Regions from separate parts of the Homo sapiens genome. Here all the other regions are linked to region 2. The links come from fine-mapping of genetic effects on gene expression. A gene starts in region 2. Each other region holds a variant in brackets. All regions are shown on one strand. Distances are between the middles of the regions.

Region 1 (5,578 bases), 32 kb after region 2:
GGAAAATTGTTTAACCTATTTATGCCTAGTGTTCCATTATTGGAATGCTAAGCTTGTGGGAGTTATTTATATCCTACTGCTCAAGGTCATTGACAAGTTCTGATTTTTCACAAAAGAAATTTGCAACCCCTGGCATAAATGGGTTAATAGAGTATTTCAGTACTCGGGAGAGATCACCATGGCCAGATGGTAGTTGAAGGTGATGGTCAGATTCTGTTTTTTTGTTTTTTGTTTTTTTTTTTTTGAGACAGGACCTGGCTCTGTCATCTAGGCTATAGTGCAGTGGTGCAATCTCAGCTCACTGCAACCTCCACCTCCTGGCCTCAAGTGATCCTTCTACCTCAGCCTCCCAAGTAGCTGGGATTACAGGCCTGTGCCACCAGGCCCGGCTAATTTTTGTAATTTTTTTAGAGACAGGGTTTCACCATGTTGCCCAGGCTACTCTCGAACTCCTGAGCTGAAGCCATCCGCCTGCCTCGGCCTCCCACAGTACTGGGATTACAGGTGTGAGCCACTGCACCTGGCCAGATTCCAGATATTTTTTAAAGGATTTACTGATGGGTAAGGTAGAGGGGAAGATGAGAGGTGGAGGAGAAGGTGGGGAATGTCATTAACCAAGATGAGGAAGACTGAAGAGGAGGAGGTTTTGGGGGAAGATTTGGTTTTGGACAAGCTAAATTTAGGAACCTATTAGACATCCAAGGGGTGTGGCAATTTTATTGAGTGGACAGTTGGATGTTTGACTCAGGAATTCAAGATTTAGGTCTGGGCTGGAGATGTACATTTGAGAGTCCTGGGGGGAAACTGGTATTTTAAATCACAGGACTGCGTGAGCTCACCATGAACGTGAATGTGGATATGAAGGAGAGGAGGACCAAGGATGGAGCCGTAGGGCAGGCCCTCCAGTGTAAGGAGGTCAGGAGGTAAGGGGCAGCCAGCAAAGGAGCCCTAGAAGGGATGGAAAACCCAGGAGACTCTGGGGAACTAGAAGAAAGAGAAGAAGGCAATCGAGGAGAGGAAGCATTAGCAGTGTTGGTACCCCTGAGAGGTGGTGTAAGACCAGGTGTTGCTGGCCTTACCAAAGTGGTGGACTTGTGCTGATCTTGAGATCATCACATTTGGTATAGCCAAGAGCCTGATTGGAGTAAAATTGAGAAAGAAAGGAAGAGCCTGGGCAACATGGTGAAACCCCATCTCTATGAAAAATACTAAAATTAGCTGGCCATGGTGGTGCATACCTGTAGTCCCAGCTACTTGGGTGGCTGAGGTGGGAGAACCGCTTGAACCCGGGAGGTTGAGGTTGAGTGAGCTGTGATCACACCACGGCACTCCAGCCTGAACAACAGAGTAAGAGCCTGTCTTAAGAAACAAAAACAAAACCAAAAAAAAAAAAAGGGAGGAGAGAAAGGTTGTGAGCCCTGTACCAAGAAGACATGTGGTTTCGTAGAATTTTCCCTTTGTTTTATTTTCTCTGAAGTAGGTGGCCTATTGCCCCACCTCCCCAGTTCTAATTCTGGGTTACAGGTAGAATTTGTAATGTGTGGGCAGACAAGAACTTTTGTGGTTTCACAGAACTTGTCTTGTAAGGCAGAGAGGCCGTTTCTCACTGTGTGTGTGGCTGCAGCAATGGGGACTGTTGCTGAGAGAGATTCAGGAGTACATTTCTGTCTACTCCTTATGAGAAGGAATTATAAAATGAATTATCAGGTAGCAGTTCATAGTGGAGGATACAGTATGTGTGGTGTGGTATAGAAACCCTCACAATGCCTCTAGGTCCTGAAACTGCTAGTAAGATTTGGGGGTCAGCAGACACAGAGTGTGATTGTTAAAATAATTTCAAACTGAGGATTTATTTAACAAATATTTATATAGTGCTTAATATGTGCCAAGCATTGTCCTAAGTGTTTTTACAAACATTAACTTATTTAATTCTCATGGAAACCCTGTGAGATAGGTGCTACTATTATACCCATTTACCAGATGGAGAAACTGAGAGTTTAAGCAGTGTGTCCAGTCACTCAGCTGTTAACCAAGACTCACTGCGCAGCTGGCCTCTAGAGTTCACATATTTACCACCATACTCTGTGGCTACTTGTGATTTATCTGGACTTTTTACGCTCATCTTTTTGTCCTGTCTTCTGCTTTGACACCGTTGACACATTGATAAGAAAATGGACAAGAACAAGAAAAAGAGGGTTCACATTAATCGGCATTTCCCCTCGAGCTGGAGAAGATATTGATGTTTTTGATAAAGAATGAACTTTGGTATTTACAGATAGTGTCAATGAACTGTGCTGCTGTCCCTGCTTAACTTGTAGGCATAATCATTTGCTTGGCTATGTGTCTTGAGAAATTACCCGCCTGCTTAAAAAGAAAACTTTCTTTTCTCATCATATTATAATATAGTATACAGCATGATAGAGACAAGGATTCCAAAATCCTAGGTGGAGAGAACAGGACCCTTTGTGAGACAGTCATGGTCACAAACTTCAGTTTTGTATGTAATTTTGTCTGCAACAGTTACGGAAGGGGTTAAAAGAAAGGAGCTGGGAGGTTTTGGCAGGTGTGGTATTGACTAAGAGAAAAACCAGAATGAACAATTAAATTTCCAAGTAGGATAAGAGAAGTCATGCAATTGAGATAAGACAACATTGGGGAATTGGTTAATGGAAGAAAGACAGTTTGGTGTCAAGGACCTCAGAAGTTCCTTAATGGTAAGACAGAGGAACCTGGTGGAAGACAGGAAGTTCAGGGACGAGGGAAATGAAACTCAAGAGCTAGGTGGTGTAAGGCTGAAGACTTCCAGCTCCTGATTTCTCTAGATAACAGAAAGATTTGGGTTTTACCCCCAATTCTTTCATTTTCTACAAGGGTGATCTGCAGCACATCAGCTCATCTTTTCTTGGTTAGATTCCCTCATCAGGTGGCATAGACCATCTTTAAGTTCTTTACAAGTTACAAAGTTCAATTATCCTTTATGACAGTTAGTAACCAAAGGTGGGAATGAAAAGGAAGAGTGGAGAGAGAGAGAGGGAGAGAGAGATTGAGAGAGAGAATATGAATCTTGTGGGGCAGCACCAAACATTTCTGTG[G/A]ATCCAAGCACAGAGCCTCTTTCCTTGACAGCAGCACCTACCACAGTATCTTCCTAGGGAGAAAGCCCCCAGTTCCCTACATACTACATGTAAGAATTCAATTGCCTGAAACAAGCATCTCCCAAATGATAGTATATTAGAAAAATCAACAGTGCTGGCATTAACCATCATCTAATCACTGGTTCTGATTATGTGGAGATGAATAGCTTAATACTCATGTTTTTAATAATTGGAGGATTTAAATGTCTTTATGATAAAATGCTAAACATTTCCATTTACTCCTTGATACATATTTTGTAGGAAAGATTCATTTAAGATTAAATCCATCCAGGTGTGGTGGCTCACGCCTATAATTCTAGCACTCTGGGAGGCCGAGGCGGGCGGATCACTTGAGGTCAGGAGTTTGAGACCATCCTGGCCAACATGGTGAAACCCCGTCTCTACTAAAAATACAAAAATTAGCTGGGTTTGATGGTAGGCACCTGTAATTCCAGCTACTCAGGAGGCTGAGGCAGGAGAATTGGTTGAACCCAGGAGGTGGAGGTTGCAGTGAGCCAAGATGGCGCCCCCGCACTCCAGCCTGGGTGACAGTGAGACTCCGTATCAAAAAAAAAAAAAAAAAAAAAAAATTAAATCCTAAAGTTTCTTACGAACCCTCTTCTTTTACATATTAGAAAGTCAGTCTCTAAGTACATATTAACTGTCTATTAAACAGTATCTAAGAGGTACATGGTTGCATGAATTCAGTGAGCTTAATCTTATTTCAGAAGAGGAAAGGATGGACAGGGGCTGTTGAGTGTGGAGACGGCTTCTTAATGGGCTGGGATGTAATCTGGAAGGATAGGTGGGATTTGCATGGGCTGGAGGAAGACACATTCTAAGAGGGAGAAATGGCATACTCAGAAGTGTGATGATAGAAACATTTAAAGCTTGTGCATTACCATGAGGAAGGCCCCACAGAGTACAAATACTTGCTGTGGTGCGGTGGAAAAATAGCTCACCTGTGAACCAGCAAAGTTTAGTTGGCTATCCTCTTTGGAAGGAGAGTAGACCAGATGACCTTTGTGTTCCTTTCCAGCTTTGGGATTTTGGTTGAACACAAAAGCTAACAGCATGGGGATTCAGACTCTTTCCTTGAGGGTAGTGGTGGTAGTGATGATGGTGATGTGAGTTTTCAATCTGTGTGTGCATGATTGGAAAGGCATCAAGGCATCATGTTCCCGTTTCAGCAGCCCTGAGGCAAAATGCTTGCTCACTTCTGGGTTAGAATGTGTGATGGGGCCCTTTATGTGAAAAAAGTTGCTTATTGAATGTTCTCATTGAAAAGACATCGGAGACATACGATCCTGCTTTCCAAAGAGCACCAAGGCCCTGCCTAAGAAAGGGTTTTGAAATCTTACTTGTCAACAAGCCTAATCAGCTACAGCAACCAAACACACAAGAAACCCCACATGGAAACGTCTAATTTATTGTCAAACAACACACCATGTGAACTGTGCACACAGAAATGTTTTGTTATTTCCCAGAAAATGGGCTGGACTTTGCTTTATTTTGCAGTGTCTTAAAATACAAGAGAAAAGAAAGAGGGAAGGGACTTGCAAACCATTCTTTTGAAGTCTTCCATGAACCCTCCTGTCCTTTAGTGATGTTTTTCAAACTGTAAGTTTTGATGCACTGATGAGATTGTAAGCAACACTTTTTAAAATGACATAAAAAGAAGAGAAAATGTCAGAGTGTGTTGCATTTAACAGGTATCAATATTGTTTTATAACCTTTCTTTGCGTGCCTGTGTGTGTGCTGGGTTGTGATATAAAATGTATTTCCTATCATGAGTTATCGTCAAGAACGTTTGAAAAACCATGATCTTGAGGGTCAAGGTTTATTTTTCTGCCAGAAAGCACTGAACTCTTTTAAAATATGAAACATTATCGTTGTTAAGGGACTTAGGGCTTGTGGTAATTAAAACAGGGAGCTGGTTGTTTTTCTTCTCACTTCTTCCTCCCTCCTCTCCACTTAGATTGATGCTAAATCATCCTCTTTTGTCTCTTAGGGGAGAGAGGAAGAAGGCAAAGTAGCAGTAAGCAACGAAACGATAGCTCAAGTTCTCATGCTAGGAGGAAATGGGTGAAAATTAAGTACCATAAAGAGCCTTGCCAGAGTACTAATAATAATCACACATGATGTTTCTGCAGTACTGTGTCTTTTTCAGTTTTAATACACTGTTCTCTTTGGTCTCATGGAAATCCTGCCAAGCAAGTAGTTAAGGTATTATTATCCGATTTTCCTGCAACTCCCCTAGATGTATCCTATACTCAAGCTATAATGAATTATTTGCGCTTCCCCCATTTTGTCTCTTTAAGCCTTTGCAGATGTTGGGATACCTTTCCCCTAGTTCTGCCTGGGAAACTCCCATTCACCTTGTAAGACCTAACTCAAAGGTCTATCTTCTTTGAATCTTCCTTTGCCCTACTGGAGTAAATCTGATT
Region 2 (5,578 bases):
AGGCATCCTCATTGCTAATTAGTATAGATGAGCAAAATTCAGCAGAGATTCAGTTCAGATACTTCCCAAAGTTAAGAACAACACATCTGTGAATTCCTGCCCATATGATTGAAGCCCCAAGGTGAGCTGGGGACAGAGGAACATGGCCTCTTTCCATAAATCCAGAGAGGAGGAAGCCTTGCCTGAGTCCCACATTGCTTCTCACTGTGGAAGGAGGCAGGCAGTTTTGTGTTTTTTAAACTTACTTTGTTTTTTGAGACAGAGTCTCACTCTGTCACCCAGGCTGGAGAGCAGTGGTGTGATCTCAGCTCACTGCAACCTCTGTCTTCTGGGTTCAAGCGATTCTCTGGCCTCAGCCTTCTAAGTAGTTGGGATTACAGGTGCACACCACCATGCCTGGCTAATTTTTTGTATTTTTTGTAGAGATGGGATTTTACCATGTTGGCCAGGCTAGTCTTGAACTCCTGGCCTTAAAGTGGTCCACCAACCTTGGCCTCCCAAATATCTGGGATTACAGGCGTGAGCCACCACATCCACCCCCAATTGTTCTTTCAGCCATCACAATTTCATTCTATCAAGCACTGTGGAATGCCCCTTTTACCTCCTTATAGAAACAACGTTATAACTCTTTGTGTTTCCAGGAACACAAAACACAACACTTGTATACATGAAGCTGACTAGCAAATGTTTGTTGAAAGTTTTGAATGACTTTCCAGCCAGTGATCTCTAAGACAAAATACACCCTCAGCCTTCATCCTTGCCATTTTGATGTTAATTTTAATTTGGCTTTGCTAATAAAAACATTTCGGTAGAGAAGTGAGACACCACAGGCCAAACAAGGATTTGTAGGAGGTTCTGGTGGATAATCCCTGGGCTACCTTCTAAAAACTAGGAATTGGGGGCCACATCTTTCTTTTTAGTTGTCGTTTGCCTCGTCTTTTCTTTTCCTGCTTCTCCCCATAGGTGTTTGTTTGTTTGTTTGTTTATCACTGCTTTTCCTCTCTGAATCTGTTTCTCTGTAACACCTTCTGGCCTTCCCCTCACATCTGACCCATCTAGCTGTTAAAAACCATCTATCTGGAAAGTCTCTTTCCTTTTGCAACACAGCTCCCCATGCCCTCTTCACTTTCCTCCTTTTTTAAGGATTCAGATTCAACTCTGTGGGATCCCTGTTCTGCTTTGCAATTACCTCGAGTTCAGGAAGTTCCCAAGGTACAACATAATGCAACATAATGTGTTTCCCAAGTGCCTTTGTTAGTAAGTTGTTTGGATTCAGAACAGATTTTCCCAGCAAAAGAAGGCTCTTAGTGGTGTTTACAGTCTAGCCTGCAACATCTTACTCAACATACTACACCTTTGTTGCGTCAAGTATTCAGTAAATGCTGGTGGTTGAGTATTTCTGTGTTTACCAGGTTGCCCTTCAGCACCGTGATGTTTGAGCTGAGCTGTTCTCTCCCTTGACAGAGAGAGCTCTTTCCGACCCCCGCCCCTCCGAGACGGAGTCTTGCTCTGTCGCCCAGGCTGGAGTGCAGTGGCGCGATCTCGGCTCACTGCAACCTCCGCCTCCCAGGTTCAAACGATTCTCCTGCCTCAGCCTCCAGAGTAGCTGGGATTACAGGTGCGTGCCACCACGCCCGGCTTTTTGTATTTTTAGTAGAGACGGGTTTTCACCATGTTTGCCACCGAGCTTTTTTATCATATGCAAAGCTTCTGCTTGTAAAAGTAAACACATGATCTTTCTTTAGCCCTAGCTTCGCAAGTTGTACTTCTCTCTACACAGTTCAACTGCAAGACACCGCAATAATTTTCTGAACACTTAGATGAAACAATAATTTTCACATGCTGATGAAAACTTAGCTGTAGCCCCGGGGAGGTTTGAGGCACATTAGGCTATTATGGTCTATAGGATAAGACCCACGGAGTAAGGGACGTAACCTTATTAAAACATCCTCTGCAGAGAAAACAGAATCTCTTTGATGGTAGGGGACAGATTATCTAACAGGTTGTTTGCAAGGATGAGGTTCCTAGCTGGCACACAGAAGGGCGCAGTATTAATGGTGAATGCAAGATGAATGAATGAACGGATGGATGGATGGCAAAGGGTCACAGGAAGACATCTGGGCACACAACTCTCATTGCTTCCTAAGGGCCTGAAGTCTGAGTGGGAAGGACTTCACCTCACAGTATTTCCTTTTTGTAAGGTCACCAGGAAAGCACAACTTTGAACATTTCTGTGACTTCGTTATTGCTTTGCAGAATTCAGAGAGAACAATGCCTTCATGACATTTGTTTTACTTTGCATCTTTCTTCTTTACTAAAGGTGGGTCAGTGGAGGTTTTATATTTCAGCTTTGAAAAACAAAGTATCCAGGACTATTTGCCCCAGGAGGCCAAGAAACCTCTTACAAGAACCTTAAATATTGTTGGTTGCCTCTGGGGGCTGTCCGCACCCTCGGGTAGCTTTGGGGTTGAGGTTTCCAGCGTTAGGTCGGGCTTGGAGTAGAGCCTGCCTCCCACGGGGGTGGTGGGTGTGGGCTGCACTTCCCGCAGCCACTTCAAACAAATCTCTGAGGACAGAGGGGCAGAGGGACTGCGTTCTAATACGGAGCTCCGAGGTATGGCTCCGTGAGGCTTGTGGGTACTAGCGGTCCTTTAGTGGGCGCTTTTCCCTCTCGGGGCCGGCCGACCACCCACCTGGGGACGATCCCAGGCAGGAACGCGTCTGCAAGAGCGCTGCCCTCCCGCGGCTCGCACGGGCCCCTTTGAGCGCAGCTCGCGGCCTTGCAGGTTGGGGACGCTCTCCAGTGGGAACGTCGAACGCACCCGGCGGGGCGGGGCGGGGCAGGGAGGGGCCGCTGTCCCTAGGTCCCTCCCTCGCACCGCCAAACTTTCCTTTGGCTCTGGACGCGTCGCAGGGGTCGCTGGAGAGGAGGCGCTCCGCCCGCCCGCCGCGTCCTCCGCTGCTTCTCCGCGCCCGGCTGGAGCCCGGCGCCCGGTCGCCCCGTCGCGCTCGACCCCGAGGGCATGCGGCAGCCGCAGGGGCCCCCGCTCCCGGGCTCGGCGGCGCGGGTGAACGTGAGCGGTGAGTGAGGGTCCGGGCGCAGGGAGGGTACCCCGAGCCGCAGTCACCAGGGCGTGCGTCGTGGGGAGGCCGGGGCGCAGCGGCGCCTGCAGGGCTCTAGCCTGCGGCTTTTCGGGGTTGCCTGGCGTGCAAGCCTGGGCTCCAGACCCACTCCAAACCCCGGGACAAGACTCTCCCGGCGGGTGTATGGCACAACTTGCTCTTTTCCCACCTTTTTCCCCGCTAGGAGCAAAAAGCAATCTAGATGCAAAATCGGCGTTGCGTCCGCTGCTGAGGGCTGGCGGGCTGGGCGCAGAGGCCAGGAGAGCGCCGCACGGGTTGCGTCTGCCTTTGCACACGTGGTTCTTTCCAAACTCAGTCTCATTGCCATCGATGGTGATTAGGAAACTGGGGTTCTCTCGTGAAGCCTAGGGATATAACATTTTTCAGCCTCCAGTTACATCTGGTACTGTGCTGTGTCCGCTGGGGAACAGCTTGAACCATGTGCAGGCTTCTAGAGATTCGGGAACTAGTAACTAGCAACACTGTCGGGGTTGTTTGTTCAGGGTATGCCCCCTCACCACCACGAGACAAAAGTGCTTTTGTTCTGTAGCAGAGTTACTTTATTGCTTTCCCTCAACAAGTTGCAGCTACACAAAATTGCTTAGAAATTCCGCACGCATGTAATTTGAGGAGTGACTGTGAATATTGGAAACAATTTAGTCTTATTAAGGTAATCATTAAAATGGCCCTGAAAAGCATTTGTAGGTTAGTTTTTATTTATTTATTTATTTATTTATTTATTTATTTATTTATTTATTTTTGAGACACAGTCTCGCACTATCATCCGGGCTGGAGTGCAGTGGCGCGATCTCGGCTCACTGCAACCTCCGCCTCCCAGGTTCGAGCGATTCTCCTGCCTCAGCCTCCCTAGTAGCTGGGATTGCAGGCGCCCACCACCACGCTAGGCTAATTTTTTGTATTTTTAGTAGAGACGGGGTTCCACTGTGTTGGCCAGGCTGATCTCGAACGCTTGACCTCGTGATCCACCCTCCTCAGCATCCCAAAGTGCTGGGATTACAGGTGTGAGCCACTGCGCCCGGCTAGGTCAGTTTTTTAAACTGAGTAATTTCCACGAAATGTTTCCCCCGTAATTTGTTATTGTCATTACAACGCTTTTCTTCCTCCTTTTCCTCCGAAAGTAGCATTACCTGGTCTTGAGATGCCGTTTAGAAATAAAGGGCTTTCTCACGGTTCCAACTTAGTCTGTATCAGAGAATAAAGTAAATGTCAATTACAGACAGACAATCAATCTCCTCTTTACAAATTCCATGTACCGCACAACGTTTCATTAATGCATGGACTTTTGTATCGCTGAGAAGAGTTGCTGGATTTTCCATTGATCCATCAACAGTTGCTAACCCTGCTTTCCATGGGCAGTGGATCTGATATTTAGTGGCCTGAGTCCAGTAAACAGAGTTTTCCTCTTTTTGGGACAGAAGTGATACGGTTAGAAACACACACCTTGGCTCTGTTAACCCCAGGCTTGTCTAAACAAACTGGACTATACTAAAAAGACGAGCGAGCAAACCCTGCCAGTCAGAGTTGTGTACTTGAGATAAGCTTCCAGAGTTGTCTCTTGTGCCTTGAGACAGCAAGGAACTAGTTATCCTGTGGAGATCTGGACGTCTAACTATTTGGACAACACTTACATTGATTGTCACTATCATATAACTAAGAAAATAGGTCATTTTGGCAAAAATTTTTTCTTTGTCTTTAGAATTTGAAACTTTGAGGTTTTGATTTAATTACATATGACACTCCTCTTGTCTAAACCTTTCAATTGCATTTATCAACTACCACTCTTTTTTTTTTTATCAGATCAGACCTATTTTAGATATCTTGCTGTTCTGCAAGATATTTGTTAGAACAGGCCTGCATATGTTTTCTATGAATGGAGACTGAATTTAAAACATTAAAGTATGAGATTGTTTTTCATGTGTGTTCACCGGAATCTGTTTAAGAAACTACAGCATGTTAACTCTCCATCTCATTTTTCAGAAACACACGTGCACAGTGGAAGAAATGCACACACAGCATTGTAGCCAGGCAGCACCCAGACACACACTCTCAACATCACTTATACACACATGCCTAAGGCTGGCTGCTTCTCCCCCAAGTTTCTCAGCCTGCTGCTGAGGAGCAGCAGTGCGTGATAACTTAAGACCCGCCTCTTATTTCTTTGGGCTGGGGCAAGGGGAATCACTATAACTGAAATGGGAATTACTGTACCTCAGATTACCCATTAGCCATTCTCCTTGGAGTATACATTAGTTCAAATGCTTTCTGGCCTGTGATTATACCCAACAGAGTGGTTAAGTCTGTTTGCAGGATTCTAGATGGCAGAGACCAGGCCCAAGGCATTATTAATGCAGTATAAATGGAAGACCAAGGCTTTGCAGTCAGACCAGCTTTTGTTCCAGTCCAAGCTTTGTGACCTTGGGCACATAGCTTCACC
Region 3 (5,578 bases), 100 kb after region 2:
CTTCAACTTGTTCCTGATTTTAAAGGAAATAGTTGTAAGTTTTATTATTAAGAATATTATCTGCCATAAATTTTTGTTTTTGACCTTTATCCTGTTAAACGAGTTACCTTCTTAATTATAATTTTCAGTGTTTCTACCACAAATTAGGTTGCTTTTTCTCAAATGCTTTTTGCCGTATATTAAAGTTATAAAATTGTCAGCTGGGTGCGGTGGTTCACGCCTGTAATCCCAGCATTTTGGGAGGCTGAGGCTGGCAGATCACCTGAGGTCAGGAATTTGAGACCAGCCTGGCCAACATGGTGAAACCCTGTCTCTACTAAAAATACAAAAATTAGCTTGTTGTGATGGTGCGCCTCTGTAATCCCAGCTACTCAGGAGGCTGAGGCAGGAGAATCGCTTGAGCCCAGGACGCAGAGGTTGCAGTGAGCAGAGATCATCCGACTGCACTCCAGCCTGGGTAACAGAGTGAGAGTCTATCTCAAAAAAAAAGGAAAAGGAAAAGAAATGATAAAATTGTCTTCTTTCTCTAATCTGTTAATATAAGGAATTGCGTTAATTAATTTTATAATGTTAACCCAGCTTTGCATTCCTGGGATAAACCCAACTTAGTGTGATGGACTTTTTTTCATACCCTGCTGGATTTGGTCGATAATAGTTTGCTTAGAATTTTGGCGAATTTGCATGTGAATAAGATTGGCCAATAATTTTCCTTTCTAGTACTATTTAATTTGATTTTAGGATCAATGTTATACTGATCTCAGGATGAAAAGGAAGAATTTAAGAATGGTGAAAAAGGATGTTAAATTAAGTTTCAATTGAAGCACCAAGATTCAAAAAATATAAACTTTCAAAGTGAAATGTTAGACCAAGATTGCCTTTCCAAAGGAAATATCCAGGAATCATTCCTTCACACTAACAACTCCTTGCCCTCTCAAGCAAATAAATGACTAGAAAGGGGAGTTTAATGGAGATTTGAAGAGGATTTCTTTGGAAAACATTGCTAGTATGAACTGAGCCAACTGAGAAGGGATTCAAGTTTTCCCTGTGGAAAGCTCCATATGCGTCCTCTCCACCTAGGCAGGTCAGCAGACTTGTGTCCAGCTCCCATCTAGAACACAGAAGGCAAGAAAAGGATAGGCTAAGTGGTTTGGTGGTGGATTGAATGAAAGATGCTGCTGGGCTTGAATCAGCTCGTAATCCCCCAGTTTGCCTGGACAAAGCAGTACGATGGTTTCCTTGGCTAGGTATACACAAAAGAGCTGGGAATTGGGTCATCATAGATGAACTCAGAGTCAGGTCAATTGGAGAGGTGAACAGGTTTCATTACAGCATGAGCTAGAGGTGGATACTGCTTTCCTTGGCAGTAAGGGGTAGTAAGTGAGCAACTTCCAGAACACTGTGCATTCATTCAGATCAAAGGAAATCAGCAGTGATAGGGTAAGAAAATAGGTTCTCCAAAGTACACATGAAAGCATTCCATAAGAGAAAGAATCAGCTTCAAATACCTTGCTGATACCAGTTAAGTAAGGACTTTCTGCCTGTCTTCCTTCCCCATCTCCCAGACCTGAAGAGGATCAGAAACAGCAGTAAATGGATGGGGGATGTATGAGTTATTAATTGTCTTTCAGCTCATTCCACCCTTTTATTCCCTGCTTTTTGGTGCTTGGACAGGAACCCTGGAAATCATTTTTCTGCTTTGCCAGCTATTCCCTGTTGGGCTCTGCCAATTGGGGTGCTAGAGGGAAACTCAAAGGCTGGAGGAGCAGAAGGAATGTGCTCCTCCCAGTTGCTTGCTTTGGACTTCCTTTCTGCTCACAGTTCTTGTGAGTATCACTCCAGCACTGCACCTTCACTGCATTGGTGGTAGTTCCTTCCATAGCAGCAGCTGATCCAGTTCGCTATTTCTACCAAACTTGCAGGACCAGACTTGTCACATTCACCCCTTTAACCTGAGACATGACTATGTGCTGACCAGTGCCCCCTGTTCAGAGTCCGGGCCCCAGCCTCCCCCGGCTGCTCTTCTGAGCTGAGACACCACCATCAGTCAATCATCTCCCCCTCCTCAGGGTCAGGGTTTCAGCTCACCAGGATCCTTTGTCTCAGCTTTTAGATTTCAAGAATTCCAATCTCTTCCTTTTATTTCTTCAGCCCTGGGAATGATAGCCATTTCCTCAAATGATTGCTTATGACGCCTTAGCATTCTCTTCTCTCTTCTGTTACCTGGTTAGTAGCTTTATATCTAGTTAATAATTCTTTATATTAAATTATTTCTCAAATAACTGGTGTGTTTTCTGTCCCCTGACTAGTATAGGGGAGGGTGATTGACAAGGTGAGACAGAAAAAAGGAAGAGATTGGATTTTATGTCTTTCCCCCAAACAGGTGGCCTCCCTGCCATAGCCCTTAGCTGGGGGAAAAGAAGGTAGAGTGAAGAGAAGTCTTAACTTTTAAATTGAAAGCCTGGGTTTTCAGGAGTTGAACAATGAGAACACATGGACACAGGAAGGGGAACATCACACACTGGGGCCTGTTGGGGATGGGGGATTAGGGGAGGGATAGCATTAGGAGAAATACCTAATGTAGACAACAGGTTGATGGGTGCAGCAAACCACCATGGCACATGTATACCTATGTAACAAACCTATACATTCTGCACATGTATCCCAGAACTGAAAGCATAATTAAAAAAAAAAAAAGCCTGGCTTTTTATGTCAAGTTACTAATTTGAGTCTGGGTTTGTGTCTGAAAGTGAATAAAGGTATTTCTATTACTCAAGAACAACTATAAAAGTGAATATTTTATAGTTATTTTATATAGGGCTTGCCTGAGTTTTCATCCAATGGCAGGGGAAGGATTGCCTTCACTGAGAAGATTTAAAGGGGCCATAGGAGACAAAACTAATAACTTTCTGGATTATATCCCATGAATCCTGCTTCTTTAACATACTGGTAAATCTTCAGCTGTAATTGAAACGCCTTGTAAAACTCACAAATAAAACTCTCTAAGCCTAGGATTTATTTTGTGGGAAGATTTTTACTGCTGGTTATACAGGCTTTCTATTTCTTTTTTGGTCAGTTTTGGCAAATTATATTTTTCTAGGAATTTGTCCATTTAATGAACATTTCCAGACTTATTGGATAAGGTTTTTCATTTTATATTTTTATTATCTTTTTGACCGTTTGTATTCTACTTTCTCTGCTAATATTATTTGTGCCTTATCTCTTTATATATTTTTTTAGTTTCCTTATACAGTCTTTCCAGAAGTTAGTCTCTTCAAAGTGTTAATTTTTGGCTTCGTTGATTGTACTTATTGTATCTATTATCTAATTTAAGGTTGTCATTTCCTTCTTTTTATTTTCTTTGGGAATTTTGTTTTCTTTCTACCTTCTTATGTTTGATGCTTAGCTTATTAATTTTATGTTTAAAGTGGCATTTTTTCCCAAATAAACATTCAAACCTATAAATTCGTATTCATAC[A/G]TACTTAAGAGAACCCATTGCCGTCCTCTCCCACAGCTGATTTCTCACCTGCATCCCTTGGTCTGAATAAATGCACTGCAAACTGCACATTTTTAGTGTAGTTGTCATACAGTTCTTAGCTTTTTATATTTTCCTGCACAATTTCTTTTTGACCCATGAGTTAAGTAATATGTTTTCTTTTCATTTTAAAACTCTTTATTTGAAGCATAATATAGAAAATGTAAATATACACATTTAATACAGAAAGTGTACGTGTTATAAGTGAATGGTTTGAAAAACTTTCATAAACTATACACACCTGTGTATCCACACATTAGAATTTAAACACAGAGGTCAGGCATGGTGGCTCATGCCTGTAATCCCAGCACTTTGGGAGGTCGAGGCAGGTGGATCATGAAGTCAGGAGTTTGAGACCAGCCTGGCCAACATGGTGAACCCCGTCCCTACTAAAAATACAAAAATTAGCCAGATGTGGTGGTGTACACCTGTAATCCCAGCTACTCGGGAGGCTGAGGCAGGAGAATCACTTGAACCCAGGAGGCGGAGGTTTCAGTGAGCCGAGATCGTGCCACTGCACTCCAGCCTGGGTGACAGAGCGAGACTCCATCTAAAAAAAAAAAAAAAGAATTAAAACACAGAGATATGAGCACTTTTTTTTTGTTGTTGAGGTGAAATTTACATAGCATAAAGCTAACCGTATGAAAGTATACAATTCACACTTTAGTGGCATTTAGTACATTCACAATGTTATGTAACTACCACCTCTATCCAGTAACAACACACTTTCATCACCCCAAAAGAAAACACTCTATTCATTAAGCAGTAATTCCCCTCTCCTCCCAGCCCCTGGCAACCACCAATCTGCTTTCTGTCTCTATGGATTTTTATGTGATGTGTTTTAAATTTCTAATTGTATGAAGATTTTTAATTATAATTTTCACTTTTTTCTAACTTAATTGTGTTGTGGTCTTTTGATACTTATTCTTTGAATTTGTTGAGATTTGATATTTGCTTTCTGCCCTAATTCACAATTAGTTTTTACAAAGGTAATATGTGATTTTAAAAAGAATGTATATTCCCCAGTGGTTGAATGCAGTGCTCTATATAAGTCTTTTATATCAAACTTGTTAATCGTCTTGTTCAAATCTTTATAACTTTACTGAATTTTTTGGCTGTTTGATCTATCAGTTACTAAGAAAGACATGTTAAAGCTCCCACTCTGATCACAAATTTGTCAATTACTCCTTGAAGTACTGTCAGTTTTTGCTTAGTGATAGACTTTTCAGATAACATGGAGAGGCGCTAATCAAAACAGAAACTTCAGATGTGCTAAACGTGCAAAAAGACCATCAGCTGTGTCAGTTTCTTTCTGCCGTATTAGCCTAGTTTGGTCAAAGTCTTCCCAGAATAAGGAAGCCCTGGCTCTTGCACTCTCTCCCCTTCTCTTTTCCTTCTTCCCGTTCCAGAAACGCACATGAGTGAAATCAAAGGAATGGTCTCAGAAGATGCTGAATAAAAATACTCTAGATCCTTGGAATTTCCTTATTTTATTTCAGCAGTGGAACTGAAAATATCTTTAAGTTATTGTTTCACTAATTACCATAGAACTTCATAATTTCCCATTTTCCACAAGGGTCACTGTGCACCAAGGATGGTGCTGGACTGAGCATAGGCTGAGTACTGTTGGCATCTCATGTCTGCTATACTGCCTCTTCATCAGGCAGTGAATGATGAATTGAGACTCAGTCCACTTGCGGGGAAAGGCCCCTATCATCCCACAGCTGAATTCACTCTGTTTACTGCTACTTTAGCTAGAACAAGAAAGAGAAGCATATGTGGTGAGTTATTGAACTTAGTTCAGCATCTTTATTCCTCATTATCTTCTACATCTAATTCAATTGCTAATTGAAATAATTACTGTCTTTACCTGGTAGAAAATTATATTGTGCTTGTAAGACAAGCTGACTGATGTGCTTTGAAAAAGCAGCAAAACATCTTTCACCGTGCTTGGATTCATTTCCCTTAGCAGATGATTTCAGTAACTTCACATCATTTTTCATCTGGCAAGTCAACAGAAGCCAAGTTTTGAGATAAATAAAGCTT
Region 4 (5,578 bases), 130 kb after region 2:
TGGCAATCTCATGGTGTTTACAGAAAGCCCAGTTGATATCACTGTGTCTGGCACATGGAATTAATACAGGTTGCTACTGGACCAGCACAGTTAGTAGACAGAAATGACTGAGGTAACAGCTATAAAACCTACCACAGGGTTGACCCACACTTAAGTCTCAAAAGTGGTCATTTTATTGTTGTTGTTATTGTTGTTGTTGGTATTTCCAGATGCTGCAGTTGAAGCCTAAGATGTTACCAATTCATCCCCTAAAAAATCCCAGAGAAACTGTGGGAAAGACTGGACCACTGGTTTTAGGAAACAGCCACCATTCATTAAGTCCCAGCTCAAAGCCAGGGACAGTGCCTGAAACTTCTATATGTTATTTATTCCTCTCAAAACCAACAAGGCAGGTGTTGTCCCTCAGGTGGACTTCCTGATGCTGCTAGTACCTCAGAGCCTGGTTGTCAGTTACATGCTAGTGTTGCAAAATTGTATTTTGTGTTTATTCATTTATTTTTGCACTATGCACACTGTTTAAAAACATAAATTGTTTGCATTAATGGATTTTCTTTCTGTGGAAAGCGTTAATAACAGTTACTATTTCATAGTGCGGTCATAAGGATTACATGAGTTCATGCATGTAAAATAAAACAGTGTCTTCCACAGGGCATCCACTCTAGTTTCTTTATAAATTGCAACTACTGTGATGATGATGATTGATATTGCTTTGGTTTATTTTTCCTTCTTACCAGCATACTCTTCAGCCCTGAGACTCGTAAGACAAATGTTACATGTTTGCTTCCTTTTCCAAATAAAGCTAATTTTTTTCTAATAATAAAAACAATACATGAAAAACAGAAAATAGAGACTAGCAATAAATAATATTAAACATGATTAATACCTTGAATAGATTATTTTATTAAATTAATATAACTTGTTTTTTAGAGCAGTTTTAGGTTCACAGCAAAATTAAAGCAGAAGGTATAGAAAATTCCCAAATACCTCCTGCACGATGCATGCACAGCTTCCCCATTATCAACCTCCTCCTCAGAAGGGTGCATGTGTTACAATCAGTGAACCTACACTGAGACATCATTATCACCCAGAGTCTATAGTCTACATTGCAGTTCACTCTTGGTGCTGTACATTCTATAGATGGATTATTTTAGCTCCTTTTTGTATACTTATATACACTCAAACACACACACACACACACACACACAACCATGTGTTCCCAAAACACATTTTAAGCTATCAAGAATTTAACCCAAGAAGCAGTCATTCATTTAACCACAATTCACTTATCCAACCGAAATTACTGAGGATTTATGATGTGCCCAGCACTGCCCGGCCTGAATAAGTGGTGAGCAAGGTTGTGCTGCCTTCTCGGGGCTTAGGGACGCTCTTCACAGCTTGAAGTGAGTGACTTTGAGAACATGCAGGATTTCTGGAGGAGAAACAAACCTGGCCAGCTGGTGGCAGGACAGACCTGGACGCTCCTTCACTGGACTGTTTTCCTCAAGAGCCACGAGGTCATTCTGACCCCGCTCCTCTCCCTTCTGCACACACTCCGGCCTCAGCCTTCCCCTCCACGCCTGCACACACACACATTAGTCAAGGGGGTGGGCCATCCATCGCTCCAATAGACTTTGCAAGAAGCTTTTTGGATTGTGTGAAAACAAATATCTTAATTTTTTAGGGAAACATGATTTTTTTTTCCCAGGGAAAAGCTGATTAAGTATTCACTGATTAAATATGAGAAAAGCATTATTTACGGTTGAAAATTAATCAGACTTAATCCATCTGGTGGCCAAGACCAGCCCTCATACTCAGCCATGTTCAGGGAACAATTGGGGCACTTTGAGCCACAAGGACTGCCGGCAAGCTCTGCCCAGATTGCTGGGGAAGGAGAGGTGGGTGTGTATTATTTATGTTCCCCTTTCAAAACAAACCCATCAAAAGAACAAAGCCTCCCTTCTGCTGGCATCGGCGGCAGCTCTGACATATGGCGCTCCCCAGTTCTTGCTGCCGAGGAGTGGGCGTCGGGGCTGCGTGAAGGTACTGCCTGCAGCCATCTGCTGGGTGCCAGTTCTTTCCACTCCGAGCTGCATTCTAATTGTGAAACAGGGCCACGGGAAGGAGGTGGGGAGGATGCTGGGATACAAGACACAGTTCTGTGACAGAGGAAATGTGCCCGTCCAGATTGCCATTTCTTATGCACGTGGTCCAAGTCCATTCCCCGGGAGGAGCATGTGATCCTGTGTGTGAGAAAAAAAGAAGGTGAAGGGCAGCAGTATGGAGCGAAGGGGGGACCAGGGAACAGGGGGGCGGAGACACTAAAGGGAAGCAGCTATTTATAGGTCCTGACCACAGTTTATCTCCAAATGATATTTTGATATTTCTAGCCTATCCCGCAGATGCCTTTGAAAATAGTCACAAAGAAAGCACCCACAGTGGGTGATAACTGTGTCTTCAGGAGCTATTTGGGTCACAGAATGAATGTTTAGTAAAATGTGATAGGACCATAATCCTTTTTTACTCGGGGATTTCTAAATGGAAGACAGGGAGAATCCATGCATGGCTCGTAGCATTAGTTTGGCTTTTTTGTGTGCAGTAAACTTTGCTCTGTGTCCCTGTAATCTGACAAATAGGGTAGGAGGCAGTGGCAGAAGTCACACAGCACTAAGCTGGGGTGTGTGTGTGTGTGTGTGTGTGTGTGTGTAATGCCTTGAAGCAATTAAACATACAATGTGTGATTTTTCATGTCACATGCTGCATGCTGTTATCCACAGATGACTTGCCCGTGTCTAGGCACTCTGCCACAGGAAAGATGCAAACACACATAGATACACATTTATAAAACCAACTGGAAACACGTATTTGTCCTTGGAGAGAATGAAATCCTCCAAAGACTGTTGTTCTGACTTGAGCCATGGAATTTATGACATTAAGCTACCATTCACTGGGTTATGCCAGGGTTTTCTTCTGCTTTATTTTTCTTTCTAAGACCCAGGAATCACACTGACATTACTGAAACCATCACTTCACACCTGGGAGAGTCACAAGACCAGACATTTTCTTCCTGCCCCCGGCATGCCTGGAGACCAAAGCCTTTCAAGGGTTGCTAATCTCTCAGCAAAGGCAGAATAGGTGGAGATGGCATTTCTCTAAGCTAAGAGTTTTTTAC[T/C]CCCAGACTTAGAGGGAAAAACATAGGAGAAAAAATTTGAGAAAACTATGAACACTTTTGTTTCCTAAGGGCATTTCTCTTTTAGGGTAAAAATAATATAATGGTCCCTGGCCTGTGCATCTACCATCAAGAGACGATGACCTCACCTCTACCATCTTCCCTGGTGGAACCCCTAAGAATGGCCCAGAGCTCACTGGGCCTTGTTTGTGGCATTGACATAAGGGGAGGTCTGGGTGGCTTTGAAATACGCCCTGTTTCTGCTATTTACTCAGTGAAGCGCATGGAGTTGTCTTTCTCCCTAGCCAGTGAATAAAATCTGAAAGTATAAAATTTAATTTGTAAGACTGAGAAGTACGAAATCTGATATTTGTATATCCCAGCAAGCGTTACCTAACACTAGATCAAGGCCGATTTCCAGAGACTGTCAGTATCTAAAAGGATGCTCTACCCTGGCCAGAGTAAAGCAGTTTTAATATCGAGTCATTTTCATTGAGCCTTCATGAGAAAATGAGGTGTGCTTCAGCTCCCGGAGCCTCAGAGTTGGGAAAGAGCAACTCCTTAGAGTAGGGGTTGGCAAAGTTTTTCTGTAAAGGAGCAGATAGTTGGCATTTTAGGCTTTGTGGGTGGAGGCAAAATTGAACAACTATTCTCACTAAAAGGCTTTTTTTAATTTTACAATTTCAGTTTAAAATGTAAAGACTATTCTTAGCTCTCAGGCTGTACAAAATTTGCGGCAGTCTGGATTTGACCAGCAGGTGGACTTTCAAAGTCCCTCTGCAGCGTTCTCATAGGTGGCTGTCTGCACTTAGCTTACGTTCCTCTAAGCCACAGAAAGCTCACCACCTCCCAAGGTCAATAAATCCGCTTTAAAGGAGGCTAAAATGGCTAGAAAGCACTTTTTTATATTGAATTAGAATTTGCCTACTGTATCTTATAACTGAAGCATTACTTTAAGAACTGATTTAAATCATTTTAAGACTGATTTAAATTTCTAGAAATAGTTTTTGATGGAAATCATTCTCTATTCCCTATTCTACTGCCTAGTAGCCATGTTCTAAAGTTGCCTTCGTGTGTTCCAGTCATTATGAAAATAAATTATTGTACTGTGCTGTAATGCAAATTGAAACCCTCAAGACCATTGGGGTTTACAAAGCTATTTGCCTTTATACTAAATATCTCCACACTGCAATGCTCCATGAATTCTTGTTTCTTTTTTTCTTTCAGTTTTTCTACCTGATTACTTATTACAAGGATGCTATCCATGTCTCTCCTTCTTCTTGTCTGTGTGCCTACTGAAACAGTTCACCTCCTCCTCCTAATTAAATGTCTCTAATCTTCCATGGGCTAAAAGTAGCTCTCCATGAGAAAAGATCCCAGGAGCCCTGGGGCCTTTGGTATTTGACTTGAGAACTTTCATCAATAAAGTATTTAAACCACTTGGAGCCTCCTGCTCGCTCTCTTCTCTCTCTCCCCTTCTCTCTCTCTCCCCCCTCCCCCCCTCTCACCCTCTCTCTCACCCCCCCTCACCCCCTCAATACTAGATAGGCTTTTGAGTAAATGTGAAAGTTTTCTAAAAGTCATTATCACCATCTGTGAAATTTGCTGACTATAAATTCCTTGAGGACAAGTGACTTTCTTTCTGAATTTCACAGCCTTAGAGCCTAGTCCAATGCTTCACATACAGTAGAAGTTCAATAAATGGTTCTGAAGGACTGAAAGAATAAGAGGTTTGAGGGTCGTGCTAGGCTGATTTGTTCCAGCATATCTCAATTTTTAGTGGAGGTTTATTGTGTTTGTTTTATTAACACTAACGTTAGGGCTATTAAATAATATCACTTAGAAACCAAAAGAAATTAACCCTCAGGGGTACAATTTGATATAAATAGAGGTAGGCAATTTTCAGTATGCTCTCTATTTCTACAGACCCAACATGGGCTCTCGTGAAACCTGGATCTATGGGATTTATGTAAATGTGAACAGGCTGCACCAGGCTCACAGACTGGCTGTGTAGAAGTGGTCTCTGTTTGTCGTTCAGATGTTGGGAGGTAACAGTGAGCTTTAACTAATTACACCTCAAATCACCCCCAGGAGGTAGGTAATGATTATAGATGTACTTGGCTGAGGTAACTCAGAATGTCTTAATAATCACTTAATAGAATCTTATCATGAGAAGCAAATTGCATTAAATAGGCAAATGAAGTTGACGGTGAGAAGCAGAGTTAGGAAATAAAATGCTATGGGGGGTTTTATATGGGAAAAATCCAATTAACACCTTTTTAAAAGAGTTGGCCCCATGGCTTTTTTCATATCGCTCACAGTACCTATCACAGGGTTATGCCCTGAATAAACACTTTCTCAATCGATGCTAAAGAAATTATAGGTAAAAATGAAGGAGGAAGTGGGAGGTGC

Which allele goes with the higher level. Positions count from the first base shown, and alleles are read on the strand shown. Sizes are in standard deviations (SD) of each study's normalised expression. Not every link is listed here.
In carriers of allele C in region 4, the expression in prefrontal cortex of the gene that starts at base 2,891 in region 2 tends to be higher than with T alone (small effect, 0.35 SD a copy in ROSMAP).

The links. PIP is the estimated chance that this variant, and not a neighbour inherited with it, causes the effect. A credible set is the group of variants that fine-mapping cannot tell apart.
Region 1: its variant is the best candidate, but not a certain one, in a credible set for the expression of LPAR3 in whole blood (INTERVAL, PIP 0.52).
Region 3: its variant is the best candidate, but not a certain one, in a credible set for the expression of LPAR3 in ileum (GTEx, PIP 0.79).
Region 4: its variant is the best candidate, but not a certain one, in a credible set for the expression of LPAR3 in prefrontal cortex (ROSMAP, PIP 0.58).

The regions. Positions count from the first base shown.
Region 1 is chr1:84,858,878-84,864,455 of GRCh38, reverse strand. The region is part of intron 2 of LPAR3 (lysophosphatidic acid receptor 3); the gene reads left to right. Among named protein-coding and RNA genes, the nearest start is that of LPAR3, 32 kb to the left of the region's middle. The variant G/A (reference allele first, on the strand shown) is at 3,093.
Region 2 is chr1:84,890,519-84,896,096 of GRCh38, reverse strand. LPAR3 (lysophosphatidic acid receptor 3) reads left to right here and starts at 2,891. Exons shown (of 3, transcript NM_012152.3): 1 at 2,891-3,081.
Region 3 is chr1:84,785,553-84,791,130 of GRCh38, reverse strand. All of the region lies in intron 2 of LOC102724892 (a long non-coding RNA gene), which reads left to right. Among named protein-coding and RNA genes, the nearest start is that of SSX2IP, 98 kb to the right of the region's middle. The variant A/G (reference allele first, on the strand shown) is at 3,476.
Region 4 is chr1:84,755,861-84,761,438 of GRCh38, reverse strand. No RefSeq gene overlaps it. Among named protein-coding and RNA genes, the nearest start is that of SSX2IP, 68 kb to the right of the region's middle. RefSeq lists an enhancer at 4,231-4,802. The variant T/C (reference allele first, on the strand shown) is at 3,170.